Linked DNA regions of Homo sapiens. The protein of the gene in region 1 purifies or fractionates together with the protein of each later gene. This does not show direct contact. Each region holds a gene or a part of one and is shown in the gene's direction. Other genes may lie near its edges.

The links.
Region 2: the proteins of ZNF689 (region 1) and ZNF593 purify together in Homo sapiens (co-immunoprecipitation; 2 studies listed by BioGRID and IntAct, with this or other methods). This does not show direct contact.
Region 3: the proteins of ZNF689 (region 1) and SMARCAD1 purify together in Homo sapiens (affinity purification with mass spectrometry; 2 studies listed by BioGRID and IntAct, with this or other methods). This does not show direct contact.
Region 4: the proteins of ZNF689 (region 1) and ZCCHC9 purify together in Homo sapiens (co-immunoprecipitation; 2 studies listed by BioGRID and IntAct, with this or other methods). This does not show direct contact.

The regions. Positions count from the first base shown.
Region 1 is NC_000016.10:30,607,388-30,614,768, reverse strand, and holds the start of ZNF689 (zinc finger protein 689), read left to right. Parts: upstream 1-4,379; 5' UTR 4,380-4,727; coding exon 4,728-4,932; intron 4,933-4,940; exon of another isoform or gene 4,941-5,027; intron 5,028-5,130; coding exon 5,131-5,244; intron 5,245-7,381. UniProt on the Homo sapiens protein: May be involved in transcriptional regulation.
Region 2 is NC_000001.11:26,165,258-26,171,391, forward strand, and holds ZNF593 (zinc finger protein 593), read left to right. Parts: upstream 1-4,650; 5' UTR 4,651-4,726; coding exon 4,727-4,926; exon of another isoform or gene 4,927-5,160; coding exon 5,161-5,223; exon of another isoform or gene 5,224-5,317; coding exon 5,318-5,459; 3' UTR 5,460-5,616; downstream 5,617-6,134. Other genes in the region: uncharacterized protein C1orf232, read right to left, coding at 569-666, 778-861, 3,159-3,242; transmembrane protein ZNF593OS, read right to left, coding at 5,932-6,078. UniProt on the Homo sapiens protein: Involved in pre-60S ribosomal particles maturation by promoting the nuclear export of the 60S ribosome. Negatively modulates the DNA binding activity of Oct-2 and therefore its transcriptional regulatory activity.
Region 3 is NC_000004.12:94,245,845-94,252,872, forward strand, and holds part of SMARCAD1 (SWI/SNF-related matrix-associated actin-dependent regulator of chromatin subfamily A containing DEAD/H box 1), read left to right. Parts: exon of another isoform or gene 1-2,709; intron 2,710-3,809; coding exon 3,810-3,911; intron 3,912-4,817; exon of another isoform or gene 4,818-4,907; coding exon 4,908-4,989; intron 4,990-6,771; coding exon 6,772-7,028. UniProt on the Homo sapiens protein: DNA helicase that possesses intrinsic ATP-dependent nucleosome-remodeling activity and is both required for DNA repair and heterochromatin organization.
Region 4 is NC_000005.10:81,297,757-81,304,611, forward strand, and holds the start of ZCCHC9 (zinc finger CCHC domain-containing protein 9), read left to right. Parts: upstream 1-3,830; 5' UTR 3,831-3,942; exon of another isoform or gene 3,943-4,299; intron 4,300-5,453; exon of another isoform or gene 5,454-6,447; intron 6,448-6,855. UniProt on the Homo sapiens protein: May down-regulate transcription mediated by NF-kappa-B and the serum response element.

The DNA.
Region 1 (7,381 bases):
CCACTCTCGGCTAATTTTTTGTATTTAGTAGAGACAGGGTTTCACCATGTGGGTCAGGCTGGTCTTGAACTCCTGACCTCAGGCAATCCACCCGCCTCAGCCTCCTGAAGTGCTGGGATGGATTACAGGTGTGAGCCACCACGCCCAGCTGACCTGACTTTTCTTAACAGATTCATGCAGCCCAGGTTTTTTGTTTGTTTGTTTGTTTTTGTTCTATTCATTTAAACACAGAGTCTCAATCTGTTGACCACGCTGGAGCGCAGTGGTGTAATAATCATAGTTAACTGCAGCCTTGAACTCTTGGGCTCAAGTCATCCTCTCGCCTTAGCCTCCCAAAGGGCTGGGACTACAGGCATGAGCCACCATGCCCACACGCCCAGCCACAATTAGGAGGCTAGAGCTCCCGCCTTTTTTTTTTGTTGTTGTTGTTGTTTTTGTTTTTTGAGACAGGATCTCATTCTTTCGCCCAGGCTGGAGTGCAGTGGTGCAATCTTGGCTACTGTAGCCTTGACCTCCCAAGTCTCAATCGATCCCCCCACCTCAGCTTCCCAAGTAGCTGGGACTATAAGTGCCCGACACCATGCCTAGTTAATTTTTGTATTTTTTGTAGAGAAAGGGTTTTGCCATGGTGGCCAGGCTGGTCTTGAACTCCTGGGCTCAAGCAATCCCCCCACCTCGGCCTCCCAAAGTGCTGGGATTATAGGTGTGAGCCACCACACCTAGCCTGTAACTGTAGTTTTTTTTCCACCACCTCTGTTCAAACATCTCCTTCCTCTGAATATCTCACTGCTGCCTCCTCATCCTCCTCCTCCTTCTTCTTTCTTCTCCTTCCTCTTTTTTTTTTTTTTTTTTGAGACGAGTCTCGCTCGGTCGAAAGCTCCGCCTCCCGGGTTCACGCCATTCTCCTGCCTCAGCCTCCTGAGTAGCTGGGACTACAGAAGCCCACCACCATGCCTGGCTAATTTTTTATATTTTTAGTAGAGACGGGGTTTCACCGTGTTAGCCAGGATGGTCTTGATCTCCTGACCTAGTGATCTGCCCGCCTCGGCCTCCCAAAGTGCTGGGATTACAGGCGTGAGCCACCAAGCCCAGCCTTTTTTTTTTTTTTTTTTTTTGAGACTTAGTCTTACTCTGTCACCCAGGCTGGAGTGCAGTGGCACCATCTTGGATCACTGCAACCTCCGCCTTCCAGTTTCAAACAATTCTCTTCGGCTGGGCCTGGTGGCTCATGTCTGTAATCCCAGCACTTTGGGAGGTCGAGGCGGACAGATCAGCTGAGGTCAGGAGTTCAAGACCAGCCTGACCAACATGAAGAAACCCCATCTCTACTAAAAATACAAAATTAGCTGGGTGTAGTGGCGCATGCCTGTAATCCCAGCTACTCGGGAGGCTGAGGCAGGAGAATCGTTTGAATCCGGGAGGCGGAGGTTGTGGTGAGCCGAGATTGCTCCATTGCACTCAGCCTGGGGAACAAGAGCAAAACTCCGTCTCAAAACAAAACAAAACAAAACAAAACAGAAAACAATTCTCATGCCTCAGCCTCCCAAGTAGCAGGGACTATAGGCATGTGCCACCAAGCCCGGCTAATTTTTGTATTTTTAGTAGAGACAGGGTTTTGCCATGTTGGCCAGGCTGGTCTTGAACTCCTGGCCTCACGTGATCCACCCACCTCGGCCTCCCAAACTGCTGGGATTACAGGTGTGAGCCACTGCTCCCGGCCTCATTGCCTTCTAATTTTGTGACTTTTCCTGCCACATTGTTTGTCTTTATTCCTTGAAAGCTTTGAGGTTAGTGTTTTGCCCATAGTATATGCTTTACAATATTGATTAAAGGGTTAGAGAGATAGATGTGCATGTCACTAGCTAAGAGACATGGCAAATGGTGTATTCTCCTGCTCGCAGGACCCTTGGGGGTGGCATTGAGCTGGTGAAACTCTGCAGTATAACACATACATAGAAGTAGGGGCTAGGGCGGGCGTGGTGGCTCATGCCTGTAATCCCAGCACTTTGGGAGGCAGAGGTGGTTGGATCATGAGGTCAGGAGTTCGAGACCAGCCTGGCCAAGATGGTGAAATCCCGTCTCTACTAAAAATACAAAAATTAGCCGAGCAAAGTGGCGGGTGCCTGTAATCTCAGCTACTCGGGAGGCTGAGGCAGGAGAATCACTTGAACCCGGGAGGCCAAGGTTGCAGTGAGCCGAGTTTGCACCACTGCACTCTAGCCTGGGCAACAGAGCAAGACTCCGTCTAAAAAAAAAAAAAAAAAGGGCTGGGCACAGTGGCTCACGCCTGTAATCCCAGCACTTTGGGAGGCTGAGACGGGTGGATCACGAGGTCAGGAGATCAAGACCATCCTGGCTAACATGGTGAAACCCCGTCTCTACTAAAAATACAAAAAATTAGCTGGGCGTGGTGGCGGGCGCCTGTAGTCCCAGCTACCCGGGAGGCTGAGGCAGGAGAATGGCGTGAGCCCGGGAGGCGGAGCTTGCAGTGAGCCGAGATGGCGCCACTGCCCTCCAGCCTGGGTGACAGAGCGAGACTCCGTCTCAAAAAAAAAAAAAAAAAAAAAATGTGGAGGCTAATGGGGTGGGTGCTGGCTTGTTCCATCAGCAATTTTCAGTTCAGTGCCTTTCACATACATGCTTGTATCATTCTGTTATGATTCATTGTGAATTTATATGCTTTACTAGACTGTAAGCTCCATTCAAAGCATGGCCTATGACTTATTTATGTACGCTCTCCCAATTGCCTAGCACTATGCTTTGTACGTTGAACAAATGTCACGTGAAAATAATGTAGGGAGATTATGCAGAATATTGAACTTGAGAAGAAAACAAGAGCTCAGGTGGATTCCTGGTTTAGCAAGCAAATTAGGATACTGTGAAGGAAGGATGCCTATCAGTGGTATGAATAAAGGCTCTGTCTGCCCCAGGTTTAAATCTTTATTCCCCACTCCTTACTAGCAGTATGGCCCTGGAAACTCATGGAATCCCTCTGAGATCGTTTCTTCATTAGTAGAACCAGGATGATAACCATTGGTTCACAAAATGCTAGTAAAGAATTAATAACGGGCTGGGTGTGGTGGCTCACTCCTGTAATCCCAGCACTTTGGGAGACCGAGGTGGGCGGATTGCTTGAGCTCAGGAGTTCGAGACCAGCCTGGGAAACATGGCGAAACACCGTCTCTACCAAAAATACAAAAAATTAGCAGAGCACTGTGGGTGCATGCCTTCACTCCAGCCTGGGCAACGGAATGAGACCCAGTCTCAAAAAAAAAAAGCGAATAACTAATGGCTCCGGTGCTGTGGCTTATGCCAGTAATCCCAGCCCTTTGGGAGGACGAGGCAGGAGGATCACTTAGCCTAAGGGTTCGAGACCAGCCTGGGCAACACAGGGAAACCCTGACTCAACAAATAACATAAAAAATTAGCCAGGCGTGGTAGTGCACACCAGTAGTCCCAGTTACTCTGAAGGCTGAGGCAGGACGATTGCTTGAGCCCAGGAGTTAGAGGCTGCAGTGAGCTGAGATTGCACTACTGCATTCCATCCCGCCCGGGTAACAGAGTGAGACCCTGTCTCAAAAAAATAAAAATAAGGCCGGGCATAGTGGCTCACGCCTGTAATCCTAGCACTTCGTGGGGCCGAGGTGGGTGAATCACTTGAGGTCAGAAGTTCGAGACCAGCCTGGCTAACATGGTGAAACCCCATCTCTGCTAATAAATATGAATATTAGTCAGGAGTGGTGGCACGCGCCTGTAATCTCACTTACTCGGGAGGCTGAGGCAGGAGAATCGCTTGAACGTGGGAGGTGGAAGCTGCAGTGAGCCGAGATTTCGCCACTGCACTCCAGCCTGGGCGACAGAGCACGACTCTGTCTCAAAAATAAATAAATAAAATAAAAATAAAAAATAATAAAGATGAAATATGTAATATGCTGGGCATGGCGCCTGCCCCCAGGAAATGCTAACCATAATTCCCTCCCCTAAAGGGCAAACAAAGAAGATAACCATTCTCCAAAGTCAAGGATGCTCTGAGAACACCAGTAAAAGGAACTCAGGATAATCTCAGCTCTAACTCGGCCAGAGTGGCTCCATCGCTCAAATCGTTCCCTCCTTCAGTGATTGGCTGAGCCTGCCAGAGTCGAACAGCGGAAAGCAGCCCCGGGGCCTCTTGCTGCCCCCAGGTCGGTGCAAGTCGCTTCACAACTCCTTGTAGTCGCCTGATCCTAGCAGTCCAGCTTCCTGCCCTTATGCAGCTCTTGGCTTCGTTCAAACGGACCGCCTTTGCTAGCACCCAATCAGAACGCTCGATCTTCGGCTCTCGTCCAATGAACGCGCGTATTGGGGAGGGGAAAAAAGACGGCGTGAAGCCCAATCGCAGCGCCATTACACTTGAGGGCAAAGAGGTTAGGAAGCCGGCATGGCGCTCCGGTCAATAAAATCGATAGCTGGAAGCTGCCTGTGTTCCAGGCAAAGGCGGTGCGGTAGCAGCGCCGCCATTTTCCCCGAAGGCATCTTCCGGTGCCTTTCACCCAAGTTCGGGCAGGAGTTTCCTGAATAACAGCAAAAGGTTTCCGTTAGCCCCGCGGGCGACCAATTCCGATTCCCTCCGGGCCTCCCCGGCCACGCTCAGCCCTGGTCCGGCAGGGGCTCCTCGATCCCAGGGGCCGCCAGCGCCCGAGGGCCGAGGCCTGGACACGGAAGGCCGTGGCGCCGGCTTCTCGGGTCCCATGGCGCCACCTTCGGCTCCGCTCCCTGCGCAGGGACCAGGAAAGGCCAGACCCAGTCGGAAAAGGGGCAGGAGGCCGAGGGCTCTGAAGTTCGTGGACGTGGCCGTGTACTTCTCCCCGGAGGAGTGGGGCTGCCTGCGGCCCGCGCAGAGGGCCCTGTACCGGGACGTGATGCGGGAGACCTACGGTCACCTGGGCGCGCTCGGTGAGGCCGGCCCCATCCGCTGCCGCGGGGCGCGAAGGGATGCAGGAGCCGGAGAGGGTGTAGGCAGGGAGGCCACGGTCCTGGCAGGCGACCAGGTTGTCAGGGGAGGTGGGCAGGGGCTTAGCAGGAGGTGCCGTCGGGGAGATACTACTCGGCGTGATCTAGGAGCTGGCCTTCTGATTTGTTCTCTTTCCCCAGGGTGCGCAGGTCCCAAACCAGCCCTCATCTCCTGGTTGGAACGAAACACCGATGACTGGGAACCGGCTGCTCTAGATCCGCAGGAGTACCCGAGAGGGCTAACAGTCCAGAGAAGTGAGTGCTAAATAACCACGCAGAGCCTGCAGCCCTCCTATAACGTTCTACCTCTAACGGCTCTGTCCAGAGTTTTGGTTGGGCTAGGGGTGGGTGCCGCGTATTTAGTATATTCATCTTCCCAGCCTCTTGTGTCTGGTGGTGTGGGGCCGGTCCACCACACAGAGATTCCTATGTCAGTCTGCAAGCTGCAGTTTTCCACTGTGTGAATGAATCAGTGGGCTTATTCTTCGTCTTTTTTTTTTTTTTTTTTTTTTGTAGAAACATTGTCTTGCTCAGTTCGGTCTTGAACTTCTGGCCTCAAGCGATCCTCCTGCCTTGGCCTCCCAAAATGCAGGGGTTACTGGCGTGAGCCATTGCAGCCAGCCAGAATCAGTGAGCTTTTAACAGGTGCTACCCTCTGCCTCCTTTCCAGGATCTCTGCCTCTAGCCACCTTTGAGTTGGACCAAAGAGATCCTAAACTTCTCAGAGTTTTCTGGGTTTTGGTTGAAGGGAGCTCATGGGGAACAGCTGCCTGGGATGCAGGGGCCTCTTTCTGCTCTTACGGCAGGATGACCCTTATCAGCGAAGGACATACTGCAATCTCCTCAGAATCCAACAAGGCTCTGCTTAACCCCATTCAGGTAGAAGGGTCCCAGATCCACCCATAGTAGAAGATGGAGCTGTCTGGGCTGGAATTTCAGAGCCAGATTCTTCAAGACCAGGGATAGCTGTCCAAGATTCAGATCTGACCATGATATTTCCTTGCTTAAAACTTTTCAGTTAATTTTTGCCAAGGTTGTTAAATGGCCATTGGTTATATCTAAATCACTTGGGGAACTTGGTAAAAACGCAGGTTCCAGGACCCCATCCCAGAGCTATTCATTCACTCGTGTGAATGTTTAGGAACTTCCATTTTTTAAATAGCCTCAGCTGATTCAGATGTGCATCTAGGTTTGAAAACCGGCCGGCTGGTGGCTCATGCCTGTAATCCCAGCACTTTGGGAGGCCGAGGTGGGTAGATCACTTGAGGTCCGGAGTTCAAGACCAGCCTGACCAACATCGTGAAACCCCGTCTCTACTAAAAAAATACAAAAATTAGCCGGGCACTATGGTGGGCGCCTGTAATTCCAGCTACTCAGGAGGCTGAGGCAGGGAGAATTGCTTGATCCTGGGAGGTGGAAGTTACAGTGAGCCGAGATCATGCCAGTGTACTCCAGCCTGGGTGCCACAGTGAGACTCCATCTTGGGGGAAAAAAAAAAAGAAAAGAAAACCATTGGGTAAAATACAGTCCAAGGTCTTTAACAATGCTAACAGCAGTGGTTCTCAAAGCGTGGTCTCAGACCAGAAGCAGCATTATTTGGAAACTTGTTAGAAATGCACATTCTTGGACCCTACCCCAGACCTGCTGAATCCAAAGCGGGCACTAGGGCCTGGCATTCTGTTTCAGTAAATCCTCCCAATGATTCTGATCACAGTGGAGTTTGAGAACCATTGGCTTAGAGGGCCTTTTGACCCAGTCACTGCTAGCTCATACCTCATAGGTTTCCATATCTTGCCTTACACTCTTTTGTGTGTGTGTGAGACGGAGTCTTGCTCTGTTGCCCAGGCAGGAGTGCAGTGGCACGATCTCAGCTCACTGTAACCTCTTGCTCCCGGTTTCAAGCAATTCTCCTGTCTCAGCCTCTGGAGTAGGTGGGACTACAGGTGCCCACGATCACACCCGGCTAATTTTTAGTAGAGACAGGGTTTCTCCATATTGGTCAAGCTGGTCTCGAACTCCTGACCTCAGGTGATCCGCCTGCCTTGGCCTTCCAAAGTGCTGGGATTGCAGGTGTAAGCCACCGCGCCCAGCCTGTCTTGCTTTTACACTTTGTGTCTAAGAAGATCTTAGGGCCTGTGCACACTGTACACTGAGCCTTGGGACTTATGTTTCTTTTCTTTTTTTTTTTTGAGACGGAGTTTTGCTCTTCCACCCAGGCTGGAGTGTAGTAGTGCAATCTTGGCTCACTGCAACCTTTGCCTTCCGGTTTCAAGTAATCATCTTGACTCAGTTTCCCAAGTAGCTGGGATTACAGGCGCCCGCCAGCATGCACGGCTAATTTTTGTATTTTTAGTAGAGACGGGGTTTCACCATGTTGGCCAGGCTGGTCTCG
Region 2 (6,134 bases), on another chromosome or scaffold:
GCCAGGAGGGAGACTGAGGTCCCAGGTCCCACCCGCTAATCCTTGGCCTCAAAGACCTCAGACGGTGGTTCCCAAAGCTGCAAGCTGCAGGGCCCTGGGGGAGCTTGCTGAAAACATGGCTAGATCCCCAAGACTCTGCCACACCAGCGAAATCGGAGTCTCTGAAGGAGGGTCCAAGAATATGTTTGTGACACGCTTCCTTGGAGGGTGAGGGTTTAGGCAATATTTGAGAACCTTTGAGTTGGATCAGCTGTTGCAAACACCTAAAGGTATTCTGCGTTCTTGGATTTTAGAGAGATGGCCCCTCCCAAGCGGATGGGTCGTGAGAGCCCATAAATACCTTCTAGCACCTCAATCCCAACAGCTGGTCGATTCCTCCTGAGATTTACCCTAATCTCCCAGATATGCTGATTTGGCCTGTTTCCTGCTGAGAGAAACAGAAACAGCCTGGGACTGCCCCTCCCCAGCCCTCAGTGGTTAGAAAGACAAACAAACCAGAAGGAAAGGACCAGGCAGAAGGGGGACCTCAGGCCCCTTCCAGAACCACCACAAACACACACGCACATACTGGTCAGCGCAAGGCTCTGATGGCAGCAGCTTATCTTCATCTTCTTTGTTAAACAGAGATGACATTGTCAGCCAGCCTTTCACCCCGACCCCCTGAACCTGGGAAAGGGGTTGGGAGTCAGGGAGGGGGTCCAGCACAACCTCCCAGGACTCCACAGAAGCCTCTGCCAGGCTGCCCAGGGTTGGGGTGGAAGAAGGGAGAATACTCACCCGGCGGGCCAGCTGTGACATGGGATTGAAGGTCTCCTCGGTCGGTTCTGCTGTCTCAGACCCCACTAATGCTGGGTTCTCCCTCTGGGACACAAGACCCCCACACAGCATGAGAGAGGCCGCAGAGGAGTGAGATCTCCCTCCTCCACTGCTAGCCTAGTACACACAGACCAGGCACCCCAAATCCCACAGAACTAAACACACACCTATACACTCCACAGATCCACAAGGGCACATGGGAATGCATACAGGTATACCTGCAGAGTAAATCCCTGCAGACACCCTTTTTTTCCTTTGTGTGTGCGTGTGTGTGTGTGATGGAGTCTTGCCGTGGGGTGCAGTGGTGCGATCTCGGCTCACTGCAACCTCTGCCTCCCATGTTCAAGTGATTCTCCTGCCTTAGCCTCCTGAGTATCTGGGCCTACAGGCACCCACCACCGCCCTGCTAATTTTTGTATTTTAAATAGAGATGGGGTTTTGCCATGTTGGCCAGGCTGGTCTCGAACTCCTGGCCTCAAGTGATCCTCCCACCTCGGCCTCCCAAAGTGCTGGGATTACAGGCGTGAGCCGCCAGTCCGAGCTGCAGACACCCTTGAGCACACATACCTGCCCACCACAGACACATCCATATACACCCAAAAGCACGTGGACATGGGCATGCACTCTGATGTAGACACACACCTGTACATGAGCATGCCCCCACATGGCTACAGCTCTTCACCTGTACATAGACATACGTGTTGTGAAGCACCTATACAAGGACACACACAGTTATATCATTCACACCTGTGCACTTATACAACCACAGACAGCTGCACAGAGGCCTATCCACAACACACAAAACCTCTCCACCCAACCACAGATACCAAAACACATACACCATACAAACAACACCTGCAAATGTCTACACAGAGGCATGCAGGCAGACTGCTACCCAAAATGTTCACACCTTCACATACACTTTCACTGGGGATTCCACCCAGATACTGATCACACCAGTTACCCACTGACATTTCTGCACAAGCCCAGCCTTAGACACCAACCTCTCCAGACATTTAAGAATTCAAACCATTCCCCGCCCCTCTGAACCGATTCCTGCCTCTGCCACATTTTGTGTGATTGTGTGACTGCCACTTATCACAGCCTCCAGACATAAGACTGTCCCTGGTTTCAGAAACTTTGCTGTTGTTGTTTTGAGACAAAGTCTCACCTGTCACACAGGCTGTAGTGCAGTGGAGCCTCGACCTCCCTGGGCTCAAGCAATCCACCCGCCTCAGCCTGAGTAGCTGGGACTACAGGTGTGTGCCACCATGCCTGTCTAATTTTGTATTTTTTTGTTGAGATAGGGTTTCACCATGTCACCCAGGCTGGTCTCGAAATCCTGGGCTCAAGTGATCCTCCTGCCTCAGCCCCCTGAGTAGATGGGATTATAGGTGCCCACCACCATGCCCAGCTAATTTTTGTATTTTTAGTAGAGGCAGGGTTTCGCCATGTTAGCCAGGCTGGTCTCGAACTCCTAACCTCAGGTGATCCACCCTCCGTGGCCTTCCAAAGTGCTAGTATTACAGGCAGAAGCCACTGCGCCTGGCCTGTTTGTTTGTTTTTGAGATGGAGTCTTGCTCTGTCGCCCAGGCTGGAGTGCAATGGCTCAATCTCAGCTCATTGCAACCTCTGCCTCCCAGGCTCAAGCAATTCTCCTACCTCAGCCTCCCAAGTGGCTGGGATTACAGGTGCACGCCGCCATGCCTGGCTACTTTTTTTTGTATTTTAATAGAGACTGGGTTTCACCGTGTTGCCCAGGCTGGTCTTGAACTCCTGAGCTCAGGCAATCCACCCACCTCGGCCTCCCAAAGTGCTAGGATTACAGGCATGAGCCACCGTGCCCGGCCCAGCCTGTTTTTTGTTGTTGTTGTTTGTTTGCTTGTTTTTTGTAATGTCAGAACAAAGCATGGTCTAAGTATGGCTTTGATCTGATGCTGCTGCAGTGACCTTTCTAGTACAGGCGCCACTCCCCCTACCTCTAGTAACATGGGGCTCACTACATCACTCCTACTTCTGCTCCCATTAGAAAGTTGTGTCCAGCTAAGTGTGCCCGTGTGCCTACTGCCCACTGGTCCTAGAAGAATCTCTTCCATGTGGCAGCCTCGAGATCTTTGGAGACAGTGGCCACTCCTCCCATGGTCCCTAAGTCTTTTCTTCCTCAGTTTTCTTGAATGTCCTGGCTTTCTGATGCTGCACCATGGTTTTTACCATCCCTGAATGTGGCATCTGCACAAATGTGGCCCCCCCACCTCCAAGCCTATCCTGTGCCCCACTTCATACTGCTCATTCCTGCTGCCCCTCTGCACATGCTCCACCCACCATGCATGGATGGCACCCACCTCCTCTGCCAGGTCTTCTTCAGATTCCCCACTCAGGGTCTGTAGCACTTTGGACTTGTAGGTTTTCCAGAAGGCCTGGTTCATGGCTGCAGGGGGAAGGGGCCTGGCACGCAAGCACAGGAAGGTGGTGGCTCAGTGGATACCAGTGAGTCTGGCTCTAGGAACTTGGTGAGGCCAAGAGCCTGTCCGAGGGATCCAGTGACTTCATTAAAGATGCACCAGCCTCCCCAGCTGGCACAGTGCCCAGGAGGTGAACCTGATCCAAAGGAGTCGGGGAGTGGGGGATGGAACAAGCTTCTGCCACCTTAGCCCCTTGTCTTGACCCATATTGGCCAAGAATAATGAAGTCATTTGTCTCTAGAGAGGCTTTCTTCCTGGGCCTAGGAGTACTTGAGTTGTTCATCTCTTAGCATGCCTCCAGGAAAATCTTCTTCCATTCACAAAATCCTGAGGTCTGGGACCCACACTGGAGCCCCTGTGACTGTAGTCATACTAGTTGTGTCCTCAGCAGGGCTCCACCCTGTGTCCCTACTTAGCCTCAATGAACTGGAGCAGGAAGGTCCGCAGGCCCCCAGTGGGCACCTTGGGCTTACATTTCACTCCTTTGTCTGGGCTGGAAACTGATTCCTCTCCCCAGGGATACACGTGCCTGTCTCCTTGTTTCCTGGCAACAGACTCCAAAGAGCTGGAGCCCCTGAATTATTGCTAAGCTCCTCTGGCCCCTTCCAGCTGAGTTGGCTCTGGCCAGCCTGGGAGGCACCAGGCTCCTGTGAATGGGGAAAGGCCCTCTAGCCACTCTGAGCATGCAACACCTAGGCCTTTGCTGCCAGCCCACCTCTGGGAGCCCAGGGCTTAGAGAAAGGAGGCAAAGATGGAGAGGTCCTTCTATGAGTACTTGTGAGAGGAACTGATCCCTCTGGAGTCTGGATGCCTGAGGACTGCACTCTCTGGGGAGGAACACCCTTCACGGATTTGGTTGGGGTCAGAGAGAGGATGGAGACTCAAGGGAATAACGGGAGCCCGGAGAAGTGAGGGCTTTTTCAGGGACTGGAGATTATCTCGGGAAGCCCTGGTGGGGCTGGGATTCCAAACTTATTCACTCTCAGTCATTTACTAATTTATTCATGACACAGACATTTATCAGTGCTTTCCAGAGATAAAGCATCCCACCCCCACCGCGGAGTCCAAGGTCTGGGAAACAGGAAGGGATGACAGGAGTACAGGTTGGCACTGATACTGGTTGGACCAGGCCAGGAAGAGCAGGGCAGCAAGACGGCCCCGAAACCCCCAGGCGCACGCACCACCCCGCGCCTCCCCAGCGAGGGCCCGCGGGGCCATGCCCTTCAGTGGGCACACTTCTGGGAGCCCGTCCTGAGCTCGGTCACTGACGTCGACGGCCGCCTGGCGGCGCTCGAGCCGCTGGCCGAGAGTGACGTCATCAGAGGCGGTCCGGCCGAGCCTGCCTAGCCCCCCGGCGTGGCCTGACGTAGCTGATCGGCCCGGAAGTGCTCACACGTGTGCTCCCTGCCCTGCTCCTGGCCCCTTGGCCGGCCGGGCTGTTTCTGGCCATGGGTCGCTCCCGCCGGACAGGCGCGCACCGAGCGCACTCTCTAGCCCGGCAGATGAAGGCGAAGCGGCGGCGGCCGGACTTGGATGAGATTCACCGCGAGCTGCGGCCTCAGGGATCCGCACGACCCCAGCCCGACCCAAACGCCGAGTTCGACCCCGACCTGCCAGGGGGCGGTCTGCACCGCTGTCTGGCCTGCGCGTGAGTCCCGGACGAGCCCGGCCTGGGGCGGAGGAGGGTCCGCGGTACCGGCCGGGAGATGTGAAGTTGAAGCCCCAGGCAGCGCAGAGTCTTCTCTCTTGGGACCCGTGGGTCCGCCCGCCTCCCGTTTCTCAGACCCGGATCCTGGCGTCAGGGACAAGCTAGGGCTAGGGAGATAGGTGCACTTGGGAGACTATCACCTCCTCACTCTCCTTCTCACTTCCATTCCTACAGGAGGTACTTCATCGATTCCACCAACCTGAAGACCCACTTCCGATCCAAAGACCACAAGAAAAGGTATGAAGGAGTAAGGAGAGGATTGATGGATGGGTGCTCAGCAGATAGGGCTCTCACCTGGTCAGCTCCCAACTCCTGTTTTTCTTTCTCCCAGGCTGAAGCAGCTGAGCGTCGAGCCCTACAGTCAGGAAGAGGCGGAGAGGGCAGCGGGTATGGGATCCTATGTGCCCCCCAGGCGGCTGGCAGTGCCCACGGAAGTGTCCACTGAGGTCCCTGAGATGGATACCTCTACCTGACATGGCCTGAAGATGCAGGGCAGAGGAATTGCCCATGGACAGTGACGCAAGGACTAGGCTGGGAGGGAGCGTGCCAACCCCTTTTGCCTCTGGGTTTGGGGAGCGGAGGGCCTCTTCTTGGTGCCCTGCCCCAAATAAAGGAACTGGACAAAGAGAACTTGCCTCCAACTCTAACTTCCAGGCCGCTGTCTCAAACTCCTGCCCTGGAAGGGCTTCTCTACTACTTTCTGTACACCAGGCCTAGGGTGTCTACTCCCCACTTGGTCTATCTCTGCCTTCCCTCTGAGGTCCTAGCATCTGAACTGGAGCACCCAGATGGAGGCCTGATGCAGTGTGGGGTGGCGGGAGTGGGATCAGATTACTCTGTCCTGCTTCTGACAGAGACTGATCCCCAGAAAAGAAGGCTTCTGAGATTGCACCCCCCTCCCGAGTCACCTACCCCCAGCATCCAAGTGAGAGTCTCTCTTCTTCGTTACGGGGCCCGTGGCACCCGCCGCTGCCCCACCATCTTCCAGACGGCATAGCAGGAGCCACCCAGGCCGAGGACAGCTAGCACTGTAGCCACAACTCCTGCCAGCAGACTCCGGGGCTCTGCCTTCAGCTCACCAGCTACCTGCATCTGGAGGTGCACAGAGGGTGTGCCTCAGGGGTCAGTTGAGACTGCCAGGAAGGTGG
Region 3 (7,028 bases), on another chromosome or scaffold:
TAATGCAGTAATTTTTGGAAATATATGTGTCACAGCAAAACTGACTGTGGTCAGTAGAAGAGGACATGATGACCTTTCTTTAAAACTCTCTAAAACGATTTTCCCACTGGGGCTTGCCAAAGACTTCATACAACATCCTTACCTGCAACAGATTCTTGGAGAATCATTGCATCTGCTGGTCACGAAACCCAAGTGGCGGAGTACCTTGTATTGCACTCTGGACCTGGTACAGAGCCGTCTCTTAACCTGGGCCCCATTCATAACTGACATTCTTTTTTTTTTTTTTTTCTTTTGAGATGGAGTCTCGCACTGTTGTCTGGGCTGGAGTGCAATGGCATGATCCTGGCTCACCGCAACCTCCGCCTCCCGGGTTCAAGCAATTCTCCCACCTCAGCCTCCCGAGTAGCTGGGATTACAGGTGCCTGCCACCACGCCTGGCTAATTTTTTGTATTTTTAGTAGAAACGGTGTTTCACTGTGTTGGCCAGGCTGGTCTCAAACTCCTGACCTCGTGATCCACCCGCCTCAGCCTCCCAGAGTGCTGGGATTACAAGCGTGAGCCAGCGTGCCCAGCCATAACTGACAATCTTAAGAGGTATTTTATAAAATGAATCAAGCAGTACACACCCTAATGAAGTATATCTTGCCTCCAGTGTGCAGTGAGCTCCCAATGTCCAGTCTAAAGAGGCAGATAGGTGCGGCCTTTCTTTTTTCTTAAGAGTGGAGTTTGCAACATGCTCCAGACTACACTCCCACGAAAGTGGTGGGCCTCAGAGTGAGGATGGTTATTCCTTCACCCTGATATGTGGCATGTACGTATCTGACCAGTACCATTGAAAATACCCACTACCTGTATCAAGTCCAGTCAACATGATGTCAGTATAGTGGATCAAGTGATACTCTCTAGACTGTGCAAAACCATCTAAGTCCATGAGTACTGTATTATTTGAGAGAGCCAGGAAAGTTACTCTAACTCTGAAGACTGAAGGTATATCATTAAACCTGCCAAGATAAAAACGGATTGTTTCTGTTTGATCTAATTGGGAAAGGGGAAAAAGCAAGTACTTGATTGATAACTGCATAGCCATATTGATTTGCTCCAGCAAAAATACCACATCCTGTAAAGCAGCTGCAGCTGGAGTTTGATTGTTTATGATACTCTTAAATACTTGCAAGACTCATCTACTTTTTGTATAGGTCAAGGAGGCATCTTACATTGGGATGGGATGGTGGTGTCAATATCTGCAGTTCCTTTAGGACTGTAGTAATTGCTTATTGTTTTGATTGAGAGGGACAATTCTAGGGACTTGGATTTGGTGTTTCCTATAATAGTAGCCCATACATCATGGGTCAGGGAACTGATATAGTATGGGATTTCTGCCAGTGCCAAATATGTCTGTTCCAACTATGATTCTGGAGATGGAAAAATAAGCACTGGGTCGAATCATATCCCTTGGGCCCGCTGAGACAGATACAGTCCCAAATTTTATCAGCTAGCTTTTGTAAAGTGTCTGTGTAACCTCCTGGACCACATGAGTATATTCAGTCACCAGGGATAAGCAGAGCTGGCATAAGTGTGGGACCCAAGAGCAAACAACACATGATAGGCACACCATCTACTAAATATTTGATTCCGAAGAGCTGTTTACTGTTTTCCAGATATTTTATGTATTTTTTTATTGAGGTGAAATTCACATAGCATAAAATTAACCATTTTAGAGTGAACTATTTAATGCTATTTAGTACATTCACAGTGTTGTATACCATCATTCCTGTCTAGTTCCAAACGCTGTCATCACCTCGTAATAGCATGCTATACCCATTAAGCAGTTTCTCCCCATTCCCTCCTCCCCCTAACCCCTGGCAACCGCCAATCTGCCTTCAGTCTCTGGATTTACCTATTCTGAACATTTCATTTAGGTGGAATTATATAATATGTAACCTTTTATGTCTAGCCTCTTATTTTTTAATTTCAGAAAAATGTGTTTTATTTGTTTTTTCTTTTTTCAACTTTATGTTAGAATTGGGGTACATGTGCAAGTTTGTTACAAACGTATATTGCGTGATGCTGAAGTTTGAAGTATGAATGAATCTGTCACCCAGATAGTAAGGATAGTACTCCATAGGTAGTTTTCCTTAACTCTTCCCCCACATCCTCCCTCCGCCTTCTTGTGTTCCCCAGTGTCTGTTGTTCTCATTTTTATGAACACGTGTACCCAATGTTTAGCTCCCATTTATAAGTGGGAAATGTGGTATTTGATTTTTCTGATTCCACATTAGCTTGCTTAGGAAATGGTTTCCAGCTACATCTGTGTTGCTGCGAAGAACATGATTTTGTTCTTTTTTATTAGCCTCTTACATAGCATAATGCTTTCAGATATACTACAATGTTCATTCATGTTGTGGTGTGTATCAGTACTTCATTCTTTTTTATGACTTAGTGATATTCCATTTTATGTGTTTACCACAATTTGTCCATGACGCACATTTGATATATTAACAAATGAACAACTGAAGTTTAGTTTTCACTTATGTAGTGAAAAAGCAGTGGTCTAGAGTTAGATACTTGGATCTGTTCCCTCCTCAGCTGGTTGTTGTCCATCTGTGAGCTTTAAAATACTGTTCTTGGAATTTCAGTGTGCCTGGGCTGTAAAGGTGGCAGTATGAATTTTGAAGATTTTGAAATGGTTTCTCCAGATGGGTTTCACCAGTATGTCTTATTATTCCCCTGCTCAAAATCCTGTTGCTTCTTAAAAAAGACTAACCTTAGGCTTTATTCCATGTTAGCTCTGGTTTAATTCTTCATCCTTGTAACCTATTAACATTCTCTGCATTTGAGCCCAAGTAGACCACTTAGTATTATGAAACACATGCAATTTTCTTCTTTAGTCCAGATATCCATAGCATTTTATTGGTCTCTGTTTTATGAAATTTTATTTTACTCCATTGTGCAGAGGAGGTATCAGAATTTAGTTATTTCTATCTAAGGTACTGAAAGAGAAAAATAGCAATTCAGTTGTTGGATAATAAAGGAGGTTGAAGAAGAAGATTGTATTTTTCTCCATCTTGTGTGTATAGCATGTGGTGCAGTTCTAAGCAGAGTAGAAAAATGCTTTTTGATTGACTAAAATTTTTCCTATGCATGAACACAAGGAGTCTTTTCTTTTTGCTTAAATGTGGACTTTAACCAGTTTCTTCAAGTGAAGTTAAGTGACAGAGAAGAAGGAAAAGTGAGACTATGTATAGCCACAATTCTCATATTAATTAATCTGTTCGGTTTATACATTATTTAGTTCCACTTAAATTCCTTTTATCATTGTTTCAGTTTTATGTTGTGACTGAACAATTAATATTTAAGCCATTCTGTGAATCAAGAGTGAAGTAAAAGTAAACTCTTCTCAGAATTTGAAATTTATAGGTGGATATATAATAGTGAACATAGATGAGATATTTGTATCCTTTTAAAATTTACCGTTGTCTTGGAGAAGGCATCAGTATACTTGAATTATATTGAGTTAATTTGAGGATCATTCTAGTTTTTTAGGAGATTTATCTCATTTTAAGCACTGAGAATAAAGTTTGAGTTACCGGATATGCAATCAGGGTCTTTCAGTGATCTTAAGTCAGCAATATTTTTCATCCTTAAAGACATAAATATGTCAATGTTCACAGAAACAAAAAGAAACAGTTTGGATTCTTCTGACTGATGATGATAATTTTCAGATCAAGTCAAAATACAATGATAATTGCCTTAAGACCATTGTTATTGATATCTCTTAAATTGTTTTCTTTTTTTTTTCTCCCCATTAGGGAGAGGAATCAAATGAGTCTGCAGAATCTAGCAGTAATTGGGAAAAGCAGGAAAGTATTGTACTGAAATTGCAAAAGGAATTTCCCAATTTTGATAAACAGGTGAGTAGTCGTGTATGAAAATTTAATCAGTGTGTACTAAGTGTTTTTATTATAAAATAGTGTTAAGAGTTCAACCACATAAAAGCTTAGGGTGAGTTTTGTATTCTTCTAATTAAATGTTCTCCTTTTATCAATGTTATAAAGTATTTTCATACTGTTTATTTATGTTGTTTATTTACCTTGTTTACTATAGTATCTATACTGTATCCCTAAGTCATTAAAAAATAACCGTAATAAAAATTGTGAACTCATTTATAACATGTAAGTCATCTAGAAAGTCATCTGTAACCCTGCCCCCATCAAGTAACTGCTTAGTTTTTTTCATGTTCTCATTCTTGAAATTTCTTACAAGAATTTAAAAAGTATTCCATTTCAGTGTCTTAATATTTTATAAGCTTTCTACTACTTCCCAGATAGTGAGAATGTTTTCAGAGTCATTAAAAAAAAAGACTCATGCCACGCATCCTGTTGCTAAAAGGCCCTCTGTTTAATCCCATGATCATATATAGAAGCACATATTTGTTTAGCATTTAGAGTACATTTACACTTGCACTGATTTATTTGAGTATATATGTTCAGATAGTACATCTACTAAATTCTGATGAGCTGAATGCAAAATCTTGTTGCAATATTGGTTCTTTACCTTTGTTGAAACTACGTTTTGAAGTTAGCAGTTTGTAAAAGCCTAGCTGCATATTGAAATTTCATTTTTAATTGAGAAAACATTTCTTGATCCTCTAGTGTTCACAGTACTTCATAGTGAGCATTAGAAATGCAAAAAAATGTCAAGTTTTCTTTCCTTTGAAGACTATTGTGTATTTGTGGAGGTGAAATTACACAGAAAGCATTTGTAAAGCAGTGTAAAAACAAGTGCAAAATAATCAGATGTGAATTCTCTGTTTTCAGGTGATTAACTTATTTTTAAAAGAGCATAGACGTTTTCTGCAAGTTGCTAATTTGAGATTTTTAACAAAAAGATAAATGACTTATTTCTAGGAACTTAGAGAAGTACTCAAGGAACATGAATGGATGTACACAGAAGCTTTAGAATCTCTAAAAGTGTTTGCAGAAGACCAAGGTAATTATTCTGGGTCATAGAAAATACATACTTCTCATTATAGTCTGTATTTTAGTATATAAGAAAATGGTATATAAGAAAAGCTATTAGCTGTTAATCAGAGGGTGGGATTGCAAAAGATGTTGAAAGTAATGATGTAAAAACATTCTTTAACAACCAGTTTTTAAATGTTTTGACCTGCCTGTTCTTTATCATAGTGTAAAACAAAACAATAAATATCTTTTTCTATTTGTTCAGTCTTTCTTAATAGTTAAGGCTACTTTTAAATTGCCATGTTTTATTGAGTGTAAAATAACCTTTTTAACAACTGTCAGGATGGATCTTGTGATTGGTGATATCATGTCATTACTGTAATGTAGATGTCTTAGCCTATACTTGCACAGATATCAAAAGCACTAGCATCAAAAACTTAAGGGTATCATAGGCATGAACACATTTTGGAACACTCTTAATTCTAGGAACCAAATGATAGAGGAGAGGTGGTAAGGAAGAGTTGAGTCATACATGTTTAGTAACATACCTAAGGAAGAATCAAGTAGACTAGCTCTTCATAATTGCAAACCCAGCATGGTAGCTTTTGGTGTTTTGGTTTGGGTTTTTTTGTTTGTTTGTTTTTAATAAATTGTTTTAAAAGGCTATACTACCAATACTGTTGATGGCACAGAAAATGATATTCTGTGGCAAAAAGAAAGCCACCAAATATGAGTTTGAAAAATGAGTCAGAAGAGCCATGTTATGAATGTGAAAACATTTGAGGAATACTTTAGCCAATTCATTTTGCTTATTTTTTATAAATGCACAAAAATAAAGGTATGATAATCTGTGTAAGTCTAATAGCTTTCTGAGTAAGTAAAAATTTCTGAATAAAGTATTGTATTATAGATTGGTGCATGTTTTCTCACTGGTACATAAAATAATGGTGTTACCTTCATTCACAGGCATCTTAGAATTCTGTAAACTGATAATCAGTGATAAAGTAGTGGGGCTTTTTGATAATACTGTATTTGAATAATTTTTTTTATTTTTTATTTTTTTTGAGACGGAGTCTTGCTCTGTCGCCCAGGCTGGAGTGCAGTGGCACAGTCTCGGCTAACTGCAACCTCCACCTCCCAGGTTCAAGCGATTCTCCTGCCTCAGCCTTCTGAGTAGCTGGGATTACAGGCATGCACCACCATGCCTGGCTAATTTTTATATTTTTAGTAGAGACAGGGTTTCACCATGTTGGTCAGGCTGGTCTCGAACTCCTGACCTTGTGATCTGCCCGCGTCGGCCTCCCAAAGTGCTGGGATTACAGGCGTGAGCCACCATGCCCAGCCTATTTGAATAATTTTTTAAGTAACGATGCAACTTAGAATATTGAAGATAGTATTGGAAAATTATGGATAGTTGAAACATACACACTTTTTATTAGTAAGCTTTATAGTAGTGTAAGCATCATTCTGCTATATTCTTCAGTGTTGGCATAGTTGAGTGGGGCTGCTAGGAATATCTGAGACATCATACAGATACGCAGCTGCCATTTGTGTTCTCAGGACCTTTGTTAGAAAACAGAGATTTATATTTAATTCATTTTAAAAACAAGTTATCACCTGCTTTTGAAACAATTGTTTAACTTCAAATTCTACTTAAGTATTTTTAAAGTGTATCAAATTTAACAATAAATTGTCGTTGAATTCTTCTGTATTCAATAGGAATAGGTAAATGTTTTAAGTTTTTATTTGAAGTCTATCTTTATATTTATGTATTTCTAATTTAGTTACTGTTTTTGTCTTTTATATACAGATATGCAATATGTATCACAAAGTGAGGTTCCAAATGGAAAAGAAGTTTCTTCAAGAAGTCAAAATTACCCTAAAAATGCAACTAAAACAAAACTAAAACAGAAATTTTCAATGAAAGCACAAAATGGCTTTAACAAGAAACGTAAAAAAAATGTTTTTAATCCAAAGAGAGTTGTTGAAGACTCTGAATATGATTCAGGTTCTGATGTCGGTAGTTCACTAGATGAGGACTATAGTAGTGGTGAAGAAGTGATGGAG
Region 4 (6,855 bases), on another chromosome or scaffold:
CACATGATTAGGAACTCAAATTTGAGAAATACAACAAGATGGTAAGATGAGTCAGAAGGATACATCATTTTTGTGATTAGTGTTCCAACACTATTCTTTATCACGTTTAAGCAAAGAAGATGAAAGAGATTCAAGCTTTTTCAGAGGGTAACACAAACTTTATATTATTCCTATTCCTTATTGCCTAGGAACCTCAAGTAACTTCCACTAATAGGTTTCTCTTGCTCCACACTTCCAATAGATTTTCTTTCACTTCTGAAATAAAGCAGTATTGCTTGTAATTTTGTTACTGAGAAAACCAACAATGCAAATGAAAGCATGTTAGTTAACAAAATTCAGTCACTAGCATTGTGTTCTATGGCAATCACTTAACTTCTCTGAAACTTAATTTATTGATCTGTAAAACAAGAAGATAGGGTTTTAAGAGGTATGTATTTCTATGAGTCTATAATTAGAAATTCTCATGTGCTGTGTCAAAACTCCCATGGATTAAAAATAACTCTTTAATAATGATTCTAAATGTAATACACACCCATTAAAGAATATCTGTAAAATTATGTATAAAGAAAAAAACCCTCACAATCCTATTACTCATGGGCCTTATTGTAAGGATCCTAAAGCAGCTAAAAATATCACTGACAGGTTTTTAAGATGTCAGAATGTCACTGGTCTGGATCTTATTTTTATTTCCAACAGCAGGGTCATTAATTTTTTTCCTCTCTCTTCTGCTGTATTTTTCTGCATACTATAAAAAAGTTCAATAACTGCCCGGAGAATGCATTAGGTACAGTTTTCCACACAATCCTCTTCTCCAGATCTATTTTATGGGATCTCCTGTATGATCTAAAACACTATCCACAGTTGTTCATTGCTTAAGCTCTAATGGATAAAGTTTGAACACTATAATTTCACATTTAAAAACACTTTAATTTGGCAAAATCTCATCCCAGCCTTCCTTTCCAGATTCACTGTTCTCCGTTCCAAATTGCTCTATAGGTAAACTGGCTGCCTGGAGGCTGTTCACTCTAATGTGTGAGTCAGTTAGAGGGATGGTCCACCCAGGCTGGGCCTTGGACACTTCTAGTCCTCATCACCTATTGGTCACTTCATCTAGGGTGGCCAAGCGCCTAATATTCAGAGAGAATCTGGGCAAGAATGAAGATTTAAAATTCTAATGGTAGTGGTTTCAATTCCTGGTAATATGGAATAAGCACACTCCACTGTCTCTGCCAGTGAATCAAGCTATAAATCAGCAATTTGAGGACTGGAAAAGAAACAGCAGCAGGAAAATTGAGAAGACGACCAGAATTCCTTATTTAACATTTACCTTCCTGATAATATTGTTATAAAAAATACATTTACAGTATTTCAATAAGTAGATGGGAAAACTGAATACAAACATAATCCCTTGAACTGTAAAAGTAAATACTTTCCAAAAAAAAAAAATCGAATTTGGGCAAGGATAACTTAGTAAAGTGTTTTAAAGTGGATCAAGTAGACAAACAATCCTCTGCAGTATTTCAAAGTAGCAGAGCACACAGGTTTGGATTGAGATCTTGGTTCAAATCCTGACTCTACCTCTTATTAGCTGTCTGACCTTGGATAAGTTACGTCAGCTCTGTGAATTTATTCCCTCATTGCAAAATGGAGAAAATAATAGTACCAACCTCACAGAATACTGAGTGGACTAATTAGGTAACGAATGCAAACCATTAAGCATACTGCTGGCACCTATAAAATGTTCAGTAAAGTTAGCTATTAGTAGCAATAGTTTCCTCCGAATTCCAAAGGACTTATTCTACGCCCTATTTGCTCAACTACTAATCTTTATTGGACATACCGCTACAAAAAGAAATCGGTATGTTCCTTTGCTTCCAAGAATGAACGACCTACAGTTTAAAATGCAATATACCACTAAAAAGAAAAGTTTTAGTTAAATGCGCCCTCTAGTGGTATGTTATGTGTAAGTACCTTGCATCTACCAAAGATAAAACCTCTTCATGAAATGTCACTACCCTGAAACCAGCTGGTTGAGATCATTACAGTATGGGCAGCACTACCACACATCTTTTAGGAAGTTCCCTATCTTCAAGAGCTGGAAGTTGCTGTTGTTTGTTTGTTGTCTTTTAAAACTTTCTCCACCATATGAACTACGGTATTTGTGATATGTACCATACCAAATCTCAACATTCCTACAAGCACTGACTTTAAAATCCCTTCTCTTAAAGAAAACTGGGCCACTTTCTAGTTTGCTTTAAACAAACATCGCAAAGTACTTATTCTTCATTTACTTAACAAATACGAGGGCCAGGCGCGGTGGCTCACGCCTGTAATCCCAGCACTTTGGAGGGAAGAGGTGGGCGGATCGCCTAACTCAGGAGTTTGAGACCAACCTGGCCAACATGGCGATATCCCATCACTACTAAAAATACAAAATCTAGCCGGGCGCGGTGGCGGGCGCCTGTAATCTCAGCTACTTGGGCGGCTGAGGCAGAAGAATCGCTTGAACCCGGGACGCAGAGGTTGCAGTGAGCCGAGATCGCGCCATTGCACTCCAGCCTGGGCGACAAGAGCCAAACTCCTTCTCAAAAAACAAAACAAAACAAAACAAAAAAACAAATACGCAGTGAGCACCAAGGATGTACCAGGCAATGAGGATACAATAAACTTACACAATTATTGTGTAATTACAAATGTGAACCGTGTCATAAGAAAGTATAGACTGCCGTGAGCACACAGTAGGGGATTGGTCTAGTATGGGGGTAGGGGGCTGGAAGGCTTTCTTGAGAATAAAATACTTAAAGCCTTGAAGGGTGAGTAGAAAGTAACTGGAAGAAGAAAAGGAGTACCATACAAAGAGACTAGCAAATGTAAAGGCCTGGAGATGGCAAGGTACACACGGCATTTGAGAAATTGAAAAAATGATCCTATGCACGGAGCTCAAAGGAGAGACTGAGCAAGGTGAGGCTAGGGAAGTAGGCAGGGACTTCATAAGGAGTTCGAATTTCATCCTAAAACAATGGGAAGCGAAGGGAGAGTTTAAAGCAGTACAGCAGTACTGCTTTAAATGTAATGATTTACATTTTCAAAAGTTCCGTTCCTACGACACGGAAAATGGATTTCAGGGAGTTGGGGCAGAATGAATCCCCAGACCAGTTGTAGAACTACAGGTACAATATGGGACAAGGGAGGAGGTGCCAACAGAGATAAAAAGAAGTGGACAAATATTCAAAAGGTTAAATGGATTGAGCAAACTGTTGAGAGTAGTGGTCCTGGTAAATTGCATTTTTTCACTAGGCACAGCTGGTGGTGGTATCCATTTGCAAGAAGCTACAGAAAATGAGCCGTTTGGAAATCCAGGGTTTTCCTCTTAAAAAGAGAACTTGTTTGGCTACAAAGTGTTAACATTTTAATTGAATGCTCAACGAGCACTGAAGGGGGGACATGAGGCACTGCCTCTCACCCAAGAGAGCCCCCAAATGTCCTTTTCAGACTTTTATCACAGTGACCCACTCCCACCGCGCCTTTACCTTGCCTCTGCCTGGAATGTCCTTAACTCCCTCTTGCCGGCAATTTCACCAGATTTTTGATTTCTTATCCAGTCTCACGGGAAGCCTTTCCGGCATCTCCCACCCTACCGATCTTCCCGTCTATCTCGCCTGCTACACTGTGAGTTCAGACAGCACGGATTGAACTCTTCATCTTTTCGTGTCGGCGTCCTGCACAGGGCCATCCCATCACTAAGCGCGCCACAAACTCAGCCCAGTATTGACGCCCACGAGTCGCTTGTAAAGACCGTCTGTGACGCCGGAAGTGACGCGCTCTCGGGCACTATGTGCTTCCGGTCTCCAATACCGCAGGAGGGCGGTCTTCCCCGGCTCGCCAACTCGGCTGCTCTGGGGGATTCGTGCGCGGTAAGAAGCTGCGCGGTAGCGCGGTGAGGTGAGGTTCTCAGCCACCAAAGCTGCAGGGTCTCGTCGTTCGTTCCCTCTGGCCTGGCGGAACTTGCGTGGGAAGCTGGGAGGACAGAAGGCTTAGCCGCTGGGTCCCTGAGCTGGCTGGAGCGCGGGCTGTCTAGGGGCGGCGACCTCAGCTGTTGGGCTCCGGCTGCTGGGGGCTGTGCGTCCAGCCGCCCTGGAATCCGCCTGTGGGTGGGCCGCTTGGCTCTCCCACTTCACCCTCTTGATAACCCAGAGCCTCCCCCTTCCCACGTACGTAGGGGAAGGATAATCTACTTCCTTTTGAACAGCTTCGGTCCCCACTATGACAGTCGCATAAACTTCAGCGAAGAGTGCGCTGGTAAAGTGGCATGGAGTTTCTCACACCAATTCATTGGGTCCACCCTTCAGCTTCTGTGGAAGGGGTCTTTCTGTTACTAGGAGCTGAGACTTGGGGGGTTGCCAGGGATGCTGGTCTTAAAAGGTGATAATTTAGGCCGGGCGCGGTGGCTCACGCCTGTAATCCCAGCACTTTGGGAGGTCGAGGCGGGCAGATCTCCTGAGCTCAGGAGTTCGAGACCACCCTGGGCAACATGGTGAAACCCCTTCTCTACTAAAATACAAAAAATTAGCTGGGCGTGGTGGCACGCGCCTGTAATCCCAGCTATTCGGGAGGCTGAGGCCCGAGAATCGCTTGAGCCCTGGCGGCAGAGGTTGCAGTGAGCCAAGATCGCCCACTGCACTCCAGGTTGGGCTACAGAGTGAGACTCCGTCTCAACAACGACCACAACAACAACAAAAAAGGTGGTGGCTTAATACAGCCATGCTCCCCTTAAGAACTGGTATAGTTATGAGAAATGGTTGGGCCGTTTCGTGGTTGTGTGAACATCATAGTGTACTTGCACAAACCTACACAGCTGGGCCGTATGGGATAGCCTGTTACTCCTAGTCTACAGACCTGTACAGTATAACTACTAAATACTGTAGGCAGTTGTAAAAGGATGGTGTGTATCTAAACACAGAAAAGATACTGTAAAAATATAGTGTAAAAGAAAACATGGTACAGCTGAATAGGGCACTTACGCATGGAGCTTGCAGGGCTGTCGGTAGCTATTAAGTGAGTCAGTGAGTGGTATGTGAGTGTGAAGGCCTACGATATTATTTAGGGTATTACTGTACACTACTGTAGACTTTATAAATGCGGTATGCTTAGTCTAAGTTTATTAAAAATAAGGTAATAACCTTAGCTTACTGTGCTTTTTTAACTTTATAAACTTTTAAATTAATTTTAACTCCTTGACCTTTTTTTTTTTTTTTTGAGACGGAGTTTATTCTCTCTGTCTCTCATTTTTGAGACAGAGTTTTGCTCTTGTCACCCAGGCTGGAGTGCAGTGGCGCAATCTCAGCTCACTGCAACGTCCACCTCTTGAGTTCAAGCGATTCTCCTGCCTCAGCTTCCCAGGTGGTGCGCGCCTGTAGCTGGGACTACAAGAGTGCGCCACCACGCCCAGCTAATTTTTGTATTTTTAGTAGAGATGGGGTTTGACCATGTTGGCCAGGATGGTCTCGATATCCTGACCTTGTGATCCACCTGGCCTTGGCCTCCCAAAGTGCTGGGATTACAGGCGTGAGCCACCATACCCGGCCCACTCTTTTGTAATAACACTTAGCTTAAAATGCTAATGTGTTGTATAGCTATATAAAAATATTTTCTTTATTCCCTTACATTATTCTATAGCTTTTTCCTGTAAAAATTTTTTTTGTTGTTATAAACTAAGACACACACATTGTGCCTACACCGGGTCAGGAGCATCAATATCACTCTTTTCTTCCTCCACATCTTGTCCTACTGGAAGGTTTTCAGGGGCAGTAACATGAATGGAGCTGTCATCTCCTATAATAACTGCTTTTTTCTGGAATACTTATAATTGTCTAGTATTATGTACAGTACATCATTGTAAGCATTATGCTTGTATATGACTGGCATCCCAGGTTTGTTTACACCAGCATTACCACAGACATGAGTAATGTGTTACACTACAAGTTATGAGGGCTACAAAGTCAATAGGAATTTTTCAGCTCCATTATAATCATCTGAGACCAGTATCATGTGTGCAGTCGCTGTTGACCTAAATGTTATGTAGCATGTGACTAGCTGATGAATCTTTGATTATGGCTGAATGTTCTCATTCATTGCAGGAAAAAAATATCCTCCAAATCACTAGGTAGTATGTAAGTGACCAAAACTTTTTTCCATTTTATGTTGGAGCCAAATCATTAGTGTTAGGATAAATTACTTCTTTATGTATGTGCTCTAAAATGAAAAGTTATTTCTGAATATTAAAGCATATGTATTAAGAGTATAAAAACAAGATACAGATTTTGGTGTGAAATATATCTTATGATTCAAGTCATAATTTAAATAGAATTGAAGATGATGTGAAATCACTGGGCTGGAAGTAGCTTATACCTTGATTAGTAAGAGGAAGCCCGGGATCATCCTGTGATGGTAAACACTTTTATATGTTTTACTTATAACTTTGCCAGGAAATTTCAACAAACTTCATATTAAAGGACATGATTTCTGTATACTTAGTAATCTGCTATGCAAATTGTTGCATTGAAATGGCAGACGAAGCAAGAAGATTGGGAGAAAGTAGCTGTGGGACTTGGAGATAGGAAAATAAACAGCCGGGAAAACTGCAGAATGTGGGAGGAATAATTGCATTCATTGTATTACTATCTGATTTATATTTTATGAAATAATTTGGTTTCTTAAGATAGTTTTTCAATTTTAAGCACACCTTTTTTAACTGGTGTGGCAGCTTTTCTGGTAAGTGGTAGATTTATGTTAGAAGCATGTCTATGCAGCATATTATAGCATTAAATATGTATACAGATATCTAACTGAAATAAA